2 separate regions of the Homo sapiens genome follow, and region 1 is linked to region 2. The links come from fine-mapping of genetic effects on gene expression. A gene starts in region 2. The other region holds a variant in brackets. All regions are shown on one strand. Distances are from middle to middle.

Region 1 (5,533 bases), 50 kb before region 2:
TGAGATGAAGCCTCCCTCTGTCGCCCAGGCTGCAGTGCAGAAGTTGGATTACTTGATATGTACTGGAGATTGAGGCCTGCAGCTGCAGTTGCCCGCTATTTCAGGCATACAATTCATCTTGTAAACAGATGACATAAATCTACAGTGTCTATAAATACATTTACAGTACTGTAAACGTATTTTTCTCTTCCTTAAGATTTTTTTAATTACATTTTCTTTTCTCTAGGTTAATTTATTGTAAGAATACAGTACAAGCATATAAAATATGTGTTAATCAACTATTTACATTATCCATAAATAGTCATCAGAAAGCTGTTAGTAGTTAACTTAGGCTAACCCTAACCCCTGCATTGTTCAAGGGTCAACTGTAGTTCTTACAGCTATTAAAAGCATCAGAGTTGTTCCCATTGTGCCAATTGGGCTGTAGTAAGAAACACAGAGTAGCAATGCTCCTGGAAGTTTTTGGTGTCTGTCTCCAGGGACATACAAACAAAGAGATTCTGAAGGATTCCACATGATATCCCTTCTGAAAGGTTCTTGAGTAACACTTGAGAGTAACATTTGTGAGTGTGTTGGTTTTCCCCAAGAAAGCTTATTTTTAGAAATTTTACCTAAACTTGCTCTATTTTACATTATTATCACTAAGATCATAATCACAACTTTTATCTAATTTTTTTTTTTTTTTGAGACAGAGTCTTGCTCTGTCACCCAGGCTGGAGTGCAATGGTGTGATCTTGGCTCACTGCAACCTCTGCCTCCCAGGTTCAAGCGATTTTCCTACCTCAGCCTCCCAAGTAGCTGGGATTACAGGCGTCCGCCACCACACAAGGCTAATTTTTGTATTTTTAGTAGAGATGGGGTTTCACCATGTTGGTCAGGCTGCTCTCGAACTCCTAACCTCAGGTGATCACCCGCCCACCTTGGCCTCCAGAAGTGCTGAGATTACAGGCGTGAGCCACTGTGCCCAGCCTTTTTTTTTTTTTTTTGAGACGGAGTCTCGCTGTGTCGCCCACGCTGGAGTACAGTGACACGATCTCGGCTCACTGCAAGCTCCGACTCCCGGGTTCACGCCATTCTCCTGCCTCAGCCTCCCGAGTAGCTGGGACTGCAGGCGCCCGCCACCACACCCGGCTAATTTTTTTTTGTATTTTTAGTAAAGACGGGGTTTCTCCATGTTAGCCAGGATGGTCTCCATCTCCTGACCTCGTGATCCGCCCGCCTTGGCCTCCCAAAGTGCTGGGATTACAGGCGTGAGCCACCGCGCCCGGCCCAGCCTAATATTATTTTTTAAACTGTGGTTTATTGCAAGCTGCTGACCCTGAGCATACAACAGGAATAAAGCAAAGAAAACTAGGAAAATATGTAAATTTTGACAAGTATAAAGTACAGACGAGCATTGAAAAGAAAGAGACAAAAGTGATTGTATATAACTAGTAATATGTACATTTTAAAATGTTTCATTTTGTACCATAAATTTGTTTTAAGATGATTGCTTTTTAAAAAACATTTAGGCCAGGCATGGTGGCTCACGCCTATAATCTCAGCACTTTGGGAGGCCGAGGTGGGCTGATCACCTGAGGTCAGGAGTTCGAGACCAGCCTGGCCAATATGGTGAAACCCTGCCTGTCTCTACTAAAAATACAAAAATGAGCCGGGCATGGTGGCAGGCATCTGTAGTCCCAGCTACTCAGGAGGCTGAGGCAGGAGAACTGCTTGAACCTGGGAGGCAGAGGTTGCAGTTAGCCAGGATCGCACCACTGCACTCCAGCCTGGGTGACAGAGTGAGACTCTGTCTCAAAAAAAAAAAAAAAAAAAAAAATTTAAACTTTTATACTAAGAAAAGCTTTTACAATCCCAGGTTGAGGTTTTAGTCCTTAGGCTAACATTTCGGTACATATTACATCAGGCTTTTTTCCTTTGCTTATATTATCTGCTTATCTATATAAAGATATAGATATAATTTTACATATAGACATATATAACTATATTTTAATATATAATTACATGTAGTTACACACATAATATATAATAATTATATATAATTATGTAGTTACACACAGTTTTATTTGTATAATTTTTACACATAACTTTTAATAAAATAACAACATACTCTATAAATACACAATCTGGTTTTTTGGGTTTTTTTTGAGATGGAGTCTCTTTCTGTCGCCCAGACTGGAGTGCAGCAGTGCAATCTCAGCTCACTGCAACCTCCACCTCCCAGATTCAAGCGATTCTCCTGCCTCAGCCTCCGGAGTAGCTGGGACTACAGGCGCCTGCCACCACACCCAGCTAATTTTTTTGCATTTTTAGTAGAGATGGGGTTTCACCTTGTTGCCCAGGCTGGTCACGAATTCCTGAGCTCAGGCAATCTGCCCGCCTCAGCTTCCCAAAGTGCTGGGATTACCGGCGTGAGCCACATTGCCCAGCCTAATACTGCATTTTTACATTTGTTTTATTTCTCTTGACTGTGAATGGGGCCCATGTAAGATCTGTTTGTGTGTATAATAAGTTCTTATAAATTTTAACTTTTTATAATAGATTTGTGTATTACGTTAGTGAATGATAGCTGGTAACTGCATATATCTTATGCATTGATGACATGCCTTTTTCTTAACTTTTTGGATATGTCTAGGCTATGCAGTTCATTTGTCAGTCTTTTGAAACTGTCACTGATAAAAATTTTCCAATATATTTATTGAAAAAAATTCATGGCCAGGTGTGGTGGCTCACACCTGTAATCCCAGCACATTGGAAGGCGGAGGCAGGTGGATCACTTGAGGTCAGGAGTTCAAGACCAGCCTGGTCAACATAGCAAAAATCCGTCCCTACTAAAAATACAAAAAAAAAATTAGCTGCACGTGAGGGCACACGCCTGTAATCCCAGCTATTTGGGAGGCTGAGGTAGGAGAATCACTTGAACTCGGGAGGCAGAGGTTGTAGTGAGCAGAGACCACGCCACTGCACTCCAGCCTAGACAACAGAGTGAGACCCTGTCTCAAAAAAGCAAAAAACAAATAAACAAACAAAATCACATATTTTGAAACTGCACAGTTCAAATCCATGTTGTTCAAGGGTCAAGTGTATATGGAATGATCACAGGTTCTACTTGTAAATTATTCTTCTTGCTTTTGTCATCCAGTCTAGAGTCCCTATGTGCTTCTGGATCTGGCATACCACAGATAGTACAGAGGCTTTTAAATCCCTGTGGGAGTTTATCAAAGTCTGACAGTTGATATCCAAGGTGAGTGATCCTAGAGTATCATAAC[A/G]TGATTCTCTAGGTTATATGAGGTAAGGGGAGGAGTGGCAAGGAGAGTGTGCACTCAACAATGCTAACTTCGTAATATCAAGTAGGCACGATAGGCTGATTATGGCCTAATTTAATGCTCAAATTCTTCAATAATTTAGTTTTTCCTTCTGGATTATGACCATTTGGGGAGCAGGTTTTATTAGAAATTAACAAACACAATAGTAAGCTTAAATATAGGCTTTCGTCCAGTCAGTTTAGGTAGAGCTGGTAACTGGCATTTATTTGAATAATTTTGCAAAGACCAATGATTTTCATAACTAATAATTAATCCCTTCTCATTTGTATAGTGGTTAGTAAGAGGGGGAAAATAAAAATAATAATCTCCCTGCTTCTCATAGATTTTTCCTAAAAAAAAAAAAAAAAAAAAGAAAGAAAAAAACTTTCCCACCTCCCTCCACCTCCTGCTTAAAAAAAATAAGGGCTGGGCGCGATGGCTCATGCCTGTAATGCCAGCACTCTGGGAGGCTGAGGTGGGCGGATCACAAGTTCAGGAGATCGAGACCATCCTGGCTAACATGGTGAAACTTCGTCTCTACTAAAAATACAAAAAATTAGCCAGGCGTGGTGGCGGGCGCCTGTAGTCCCAGCTACTCGGGAGGCTGAGGCAGGAGAATGGTGTGAACCCGGGAGGCAGAGCTTGCAGTGAGCAGAGATCACGCCACTGCACTCCAGCCTGAGCGACAGAGCAAGACTCCGTCTCAAAAAAAAAAAAAACAAAAAACAAAAGAACAAAAGAAATGCCTTTTTCCTTCATTCCAACAAAACAAAACAAACTCTATAACCAATCCCTGGTTAGAAATGTAGCGCATACTACATGTTAGGTGTGGCAAATGACTTTTCTTTTGTTTACTATTGTTTTAATCATGTGTCAGGGTGGAGAGAAACAACTTTAAATGGAAGAAGGAATTGTGTAGTCACCACCCACATCTTCTCAAGCATTGGTGGAAGCCTCAGCCTAAGTGGATATTTGGGATCCATTCTTCAAGTAGCAACTGGAATGTGCTAGCAGCCACTTTCACATTAATGGGAGAACTGTTATAGCCCTTGAGTGAAAGCATGGCTTATTTCACCTAGTTTCCCTGGTGCCAGGCTTAGAGCAGAAGGTCAAAAAGTTAGCAGATCAGAAGTTTTGCTTGTAAATTATTCTGCTTCTTTTTTCATCCAGTCTTAGAGCCCCCCAAAATGCACTCTTGGATCTGGTGCACTGTTGTTGGTACGAACAGTAAATCACAGGCTCTACCTAAACAGCTAATGAATGAACAAAACATCTTATATAAAAGCTCCATCTTAACAGAAGTTTAAAAAAGTTCTGTGTTGGTGAGAGTTGGAGGAAAAAGTGTACTCCCAAACATATTATTGGGGAAATGTAAATTGTTTAAGTCCTGTGTAATTTGGCAATGACCATTACAATTAAAAATGTATATACCCTGTGACCCAGCAAAGTCTCTTCTGCTAATTCATCCTGCACAAAAACTCTCATATATGCGCAAAGAAAAGAATAGTCATTACAGCATTCTTTGTAATAGTAAAAGACTAGAAACAACTTAAATGTCTCTTCAATAGAGAACTGGTGAAATAAATCATGGCATATACAGGTAATAGAATTCTGTGCTGATGTTAAAAGGAATAAGAATTATACAGGTTGACATGGACTGACCTCCAAGATAATACTGTTAAGTAAACAAAGTCAAGTACAAAATCACTTGTTCAGTTATGTAAATAACAATAATGGGGGGAAGGAATATAAATATATGTTTCTATTTGAAAAGACTATCTCTGGAAGGTTACATAAGAAACTGGTAACAGTAGTTCAATTTGGGGAGAGGAACTGAGGAATTGGGAGGATTGAAAGAGGAGAAAGGGAGCTTTGTTTTTCACTGTTGTGTCATTTCAGTTTCTAGCCGTATGTATACCATTTAAAATTATTAAAATAAAAATGTCCAAAGTAAATATTTTAAAATTGATTTCCAAAAAGAATAATGCTTTTTTTTTTTTTTTTTGAGACAGCGTTTCTCTCTGTATCCTAGGCTGGAGTGCAGTGATGCGATCATGGCTCACTGCACCCTGGACCTCCCAGCTTCAAGTAATCCTCACACCTCAGCCTCTTAAATAGCTGGGACTACATGCATACACCACCAGCCTGGCTAATTTTTTTTATTACTTTTTGTAGAGACAGGGGTCTCACTGTGCTGCCCAGGCTGGCCTTGAACTCCTGGGCTCAAG
Region 2 (5,000 bases):
ATTAGTACAGAACGTATTTTCACACCCTAATGACAAAATACTTTGTCATTATAAATTAACTGGGGCGGTGGTTCACACCTGTATTCCCAACGCTTTGGGAGGCCAAGACGGCGGGCATCACCTGAGTTTGGGAGTTCAAGACCAGCCTAACCAAGATGGCGAAATCCTGTCTCTACTTAAAATACAAAATTAGCCGGGCGTGGTGGCACGTGCCTGTAATCCCAGCTACTCAGGAGGCTGAGGCAGGAGAATCACTGGAATCCGAGAGGCAGAGGCTGCGGTGAGCTGAGATTGTGCCACTGCACCCCAGTCTGGGCAACAAGAGCAAAACTCCATCTCTAAATAAATAAACAAACTTTAAATTATCATTAAAAAATAAAATCTAAAATAAGCCCTAAACCTTACTTTAGTTAATAATTTCAGCCTATTCCTTATCTAACCATCTTGCCAATCTGCCAAGGAACAATTAACTCTACTATTATATTGTCCCTTTAATTTTCTCTAGTAGACAGTCTCAAAGAAAACTGAAAAAGGAAACATCTAAATAATTCCTAAACTGGATATATAATCCTAGAACGATGGTTGGGCGGGGCGGGGGGGGGGGTTCCATAAATATATCTAATGTTGACAAATCCAAGTATCTCACCAGATTTTACTTTTTCTTGCCCCCAGTTTTTTGGGTCATCAAAAAATTCTTCTAGTCCTTTCCTTGACAATGTGGTATGAAGTAATCTATATTGGTGAAAGGATGTCACATTTGGTGTACTCTTAGGCAACAAACTAAGAAAAAACCTGCAATTGAACACACATAAACAAGTAAAAGTTTTATAATATCTGGATTTTATAAGCAATAAACATTATCATAATAAACATAATCATTTTGTCATCGATAACATTTTAAAAAGCTACTCAGGGTTTCTGCACAAGAATTAATTTTTTTTTCTTATTTAGAGACTGGGTCTCACTATGTTGTCCAGGCTGGTCTCGAACTCCTGGGCTCAAGTGATCCTCCCACCTTGGCCTCCCAAAGTGCTGGAATTACAGGGATGAGCCACCATGCTTGGCCACAATAAATTTTGAAAATGCTTTAGAAAGTATTGTTAATACTGCATTATAGAAGCTGCTACCTTATAATTTCAGAGGTAACATAGTTACACAATTATATTTTAAGGTAACATTTTTGGGTCCTTCTTACATTGCTAATGGGTGCAAGCGCAGGTAAAAAGAGCAGTCAATTTTGCAACATGTGGGCTGGGCACGGTGGCTCACACCTGTTATCCCAGAAATTTGGAAGGCCGAGGTGGGAGGATCACTTTGAGCCCAGGAGCTCAAGACCAGCCTGGGCAAGATGGCAAAACCTCATCTTTAACAAAAATACAAAAATTAGCCAGGCATAGTAGCACGTGCCTTATAGTCCCAACTACTCGGGAGGCTGAGGTGGGAGGACGCTTTGAGCCTGGGAGGCAGAGGTTTCAGTGAGCTGAGATCACACCATTGCACTCCAGCCTGGGCGACAGAGTCAGTCCCTGTCTCAAAAAACAAAAACAAAAAAACCTCACAATTTTGCAACATGTATCAGGAGCCTCAAATACTTCCTCCTTTAATTCAGTAATTCTGCATCTAGAAGTTTCAACTGAAAAAATTATTATAGATGGGAATTTATAAATTAAGATGTTTATTAAAGCACTATATAGGATGTCAAGTTTTTAATTATGTAAATACGCAGCTAAGAATGGTTTAAAAATTACTGTGCATCTGGATGATAAATTATTATGCAGTAATTCAAAAATCCTGTTTTTAAAAAATAGTTAACGACCTGAGATGATTTGAAACTAAATAATGAAGTTTATCACAAGTGTTGTATCCCTACCAAAAATATTTAGCCTAAATCTTATAATGAGGAAACAATCAGACAAATCCAAATGAATAAGATTCTTAAAAAGCTAATCTCATCAAAATGTCAACAACATTAAGAAAAAAAAAAAAAAGAAATTGTTCCGGATAGAGACTAAAGAGTCATGGCAACCAATGTAATAAATGGATACTTCACTGGATCCAGGACCAAGAAAAATAAATAAATAAAAGAAGTTACTAAGTTACCAGTTACTTTCATTGTAACACATCCTGTAAATACAAATATCTCTTCTTTTTTAATCCATCCAAACTTGACACAGACTTGAGTATCACAACAAAAACATCTTCGGTAAAGTTTTTCGCACCTCACCCAGCCCAAGAGGATGCTTCTGTACTTATAGATGTATTTACTTCAACAAATGCTGGACATCTACAAACCCCATATACTGTCTTGTCCACAGCAGGCAGCAACAAAATGAGGAAGGAATAGAAATGTCGGAGGTGAGCGACTTCTCCAAGGTCACTCACTCCTCACCAAAGTGGGCTCCGGCTCTGCCATCCAGGCGGCCGTTCCATTCTTGAGTTGTTCTCGGCATCTCGGCATCTCGGCAACCAAACAAGATCCAAAGTTGGAGAGGTGGGCAAACCTACTTTATACATCACTTACCCTGTGCAGGCAGGGACCTGAGGAGTTATTAACGATCGGGAAGATTTCAGGGCGGATGAAACTCTCCTACAAAGAAGGGCCAAACCGGCCGCAGCCATGTTTTCGCATAACTGGCAAAACGCGTTTCCGCCAACGATAGCGTCACTTCCGGCGTCTCAAGCCGGCGGTGAGGAGAATAGAAAACTTGCCCTCACTTAAGATGGCCACATCCTGCCTTTGTCCTCATTGGTAAATTGGCTCTCTCAGCTTCCGTGACCCGCCTCCCTTCTTCCTCCTGCCCGTAGTAGCCATGGCGGCCATGAGTTTGTTGCGGCGGGTTTCGGTTACTGCGGTGGCAGCTCTGTCTGGCCGGCCCCTTGGCACTCGCCTCGGATTTGGGGGCTTCCTCACTCGTGGCTTTCCGAAGGCTGCTGGTGGGTGCTGGCCTAGGGAGAACGGGCGTGAAGCGGGTGCGGGGCGAGAAAAGGGAGGACGCTTCCAGGGTGACCTTGGTGGGATCCGGAGGGAGCCGGGACAAGTTGTGGGCTTGGGGCTTGACAGGAGAGACGGAGCACGAGCTATATGAGGGGTTTTCCTGAAGTAGCCAGATAGATCGTGTTTACATTATTAGCATTTCTAAAACGTTGTTATTCACCATCCCAATTAATGCTAATTTGCGGATGAAGCTGAGTCTAGAAAGGTATAGAGCTGAGATCTGTATCTCTAGGGCACAAGCTTATTGTTGCGTTCCACCTGCCCAAAGGCTAGGTTCTAGTCCCACAGATGCAAAGTCATCTTGCCGAGAAGCCCACCTATGCTAAGGAATATGAAGACAGGTAATATGTAGACAGGTAAAGAGGCTCAGGGCCAACTTATTCTTTAGGCACAGTAAGTACCGTGCCGCCCAATAATGAGATGCAGATGAACTGGGGAGGAAGAGAGGTTTTTGTTTTGTTTTGTTTTGTTTGTTTGTTTTTTGAGACAGAGTCTCACTCTGTTGCCCAGGCTGGAGTGCAGTGGCGCGATCTTGGCTCACTGCAACCTCCGCCTCCTGGGTTCAAGCGATTCTCCTGCCTGAACCCATGATAGTTTTAGGGGTCTACGAAAGTCTTTTAATTTAAATTTCTTTTTTAAAAAAACCATAATGTTTATGAATATGATAACGAATCCAGCCTGTATTATGTTCGTTTTATACCAATGCAGTCATAAAATATTATTTTTAATAACTTAGACGAAGGGGCCCTTGAAGGCAAAAGTGCCTAGGTCTCAGGAAAGTCATAATACAGTCTTTTTTTTTTTTTCTTTTGAGACAGTCTCACTCTGTCACCCAGGCTGGAGTGCAGTGGCACCATCTTGGCTCACTGCAATCTCCACCCCCCGGGTTCAAGCGATTCTCCCGCCTCAGCCTCCCCAGTAGCTGAGGCTACAGGTGCACACCACCACGCCTGGCTAATTTTTGTATATTTAGTAGAGATGGGGTTTCACCATGTTGGCCAGGCTGGTCTCGAACTCCTCACCTCAAATGATCCGCCCACCTCAGCCTCCCAAAGTGCTGGGATTATAGGCGTAAGCCACTGCACCTGACCAATACAGTCTTAATAGGGCTATTTGGACCTCCTTGGAGACAGTGAGTTGCATCATGGCGGTGTGAATAATCATAGCAAAGATCAAATGCTTGATATTCAGTGTACTTTATTATCTCAGAGACTCTGCAAAGAAATTACAATGTTATTTTCATTTTACAGATGAGGAAACTGACTCAATTATTAAATAATGTGTCACTAAATAATAGCCAACATTTACTGAGCACCTGTTACGTGTCAAGCATCCTTTTTTATTTTTATTTTTTTCAAGACGGAGTCTTGCTCTGTTGCCCAGGCTGGAGTGCAATGGCGTGATCTTGGGTCACTGCAACCTCTGCCTCCTGCGTTCAGGCGATTCTCCTGCCTCAGCCTCTTGAGTAGCTGGGATTACAGTTGCACGCCTCCATGCCCGGCTAATTTTATGTGTTTTTAGTAGAGATGGGGTTTCATCATGTTGGCTAGGCTGGTCTCGAACTCCTGACCTCGTGATCCACCTGCCTTGGCCTCCCAGAGTGCTGAGATCACAGGCGTGAGCCACCCCACCTGACCTCAAGCATCATTTTAAGGGTTTAAAGTATTAATTTATTTAATCCTCTTCATTAGATATATACTGTAAGCTATTTGCCCTGTGCAATAGAAGCAGGTAAAGAGGAAGTGAAACACTTAAAGTCAGAAAGTTGTCTCCAGCCTCAAAATATCTTGTTCTCTTTTTACCCCTATTCTCCCAGTTTAATTTGAATTATGCCACTCCACAGGATGAGGCAATATACATAGGGATTTGCTGGAAACATGATGCAAAGAACCAGTGGTATTTAACAAATTTCCAGCAGGAATTTGAACTTGTTACAAAACTACATTCCTTGATGAAAATCCCTTTATAAGCCATTTCTGATTACAGATATTCTCATATAGCCAAA

Evidence for each region. PIP is the estimated chance that this variant, and not a neighbour inherited with it, causes the effect. A credible set is the group of variants that fine-mapping cannot tell apart.
Region 1: its variant is the best candidate, but not a certain one, in a credible set for the expression of NDUFB5 in lung (TOPMed, PIP 0.56).

The regions. Positions count from the first base shown.
Region 1 is chr3:179,551,520-179,557,052 of GRCh38, forward strand. No RefSeq gene overlaps it. Among named protein-coding and RNA genes, the nearest start is that of ACTL6A, 8.6 kb to the right of the region's middle. The variant A/G (reference allele first, on the strand shown) is at 3,270.
Region 2 is chr3:179,602,006-179,607,005 of GRCh38, forward strand. It overlaps NDUFB5 (NADH:ubiquinone oxidoreductase subunit B5), which reads left to right and starts at 2,789. Exons shown (of 6, transcript NM_002492.4): 1 at 2,789-2,934. The coding sequence starts at 2,811. It overlaps MRPL47 (mitochondrial ribosomal protein L47), which reads right to left and starts at 2,633. Exons shown (of 7, transcript NM_020409.3): 1 at 2,522-2,633; 2 at 647-792. The coding sequence starts at 2,619. RefSeq lists enhancers at 1,923-2,789, 2,715-2,914, 2,790-3,656, 3,095-3,254, 3,285-3,374.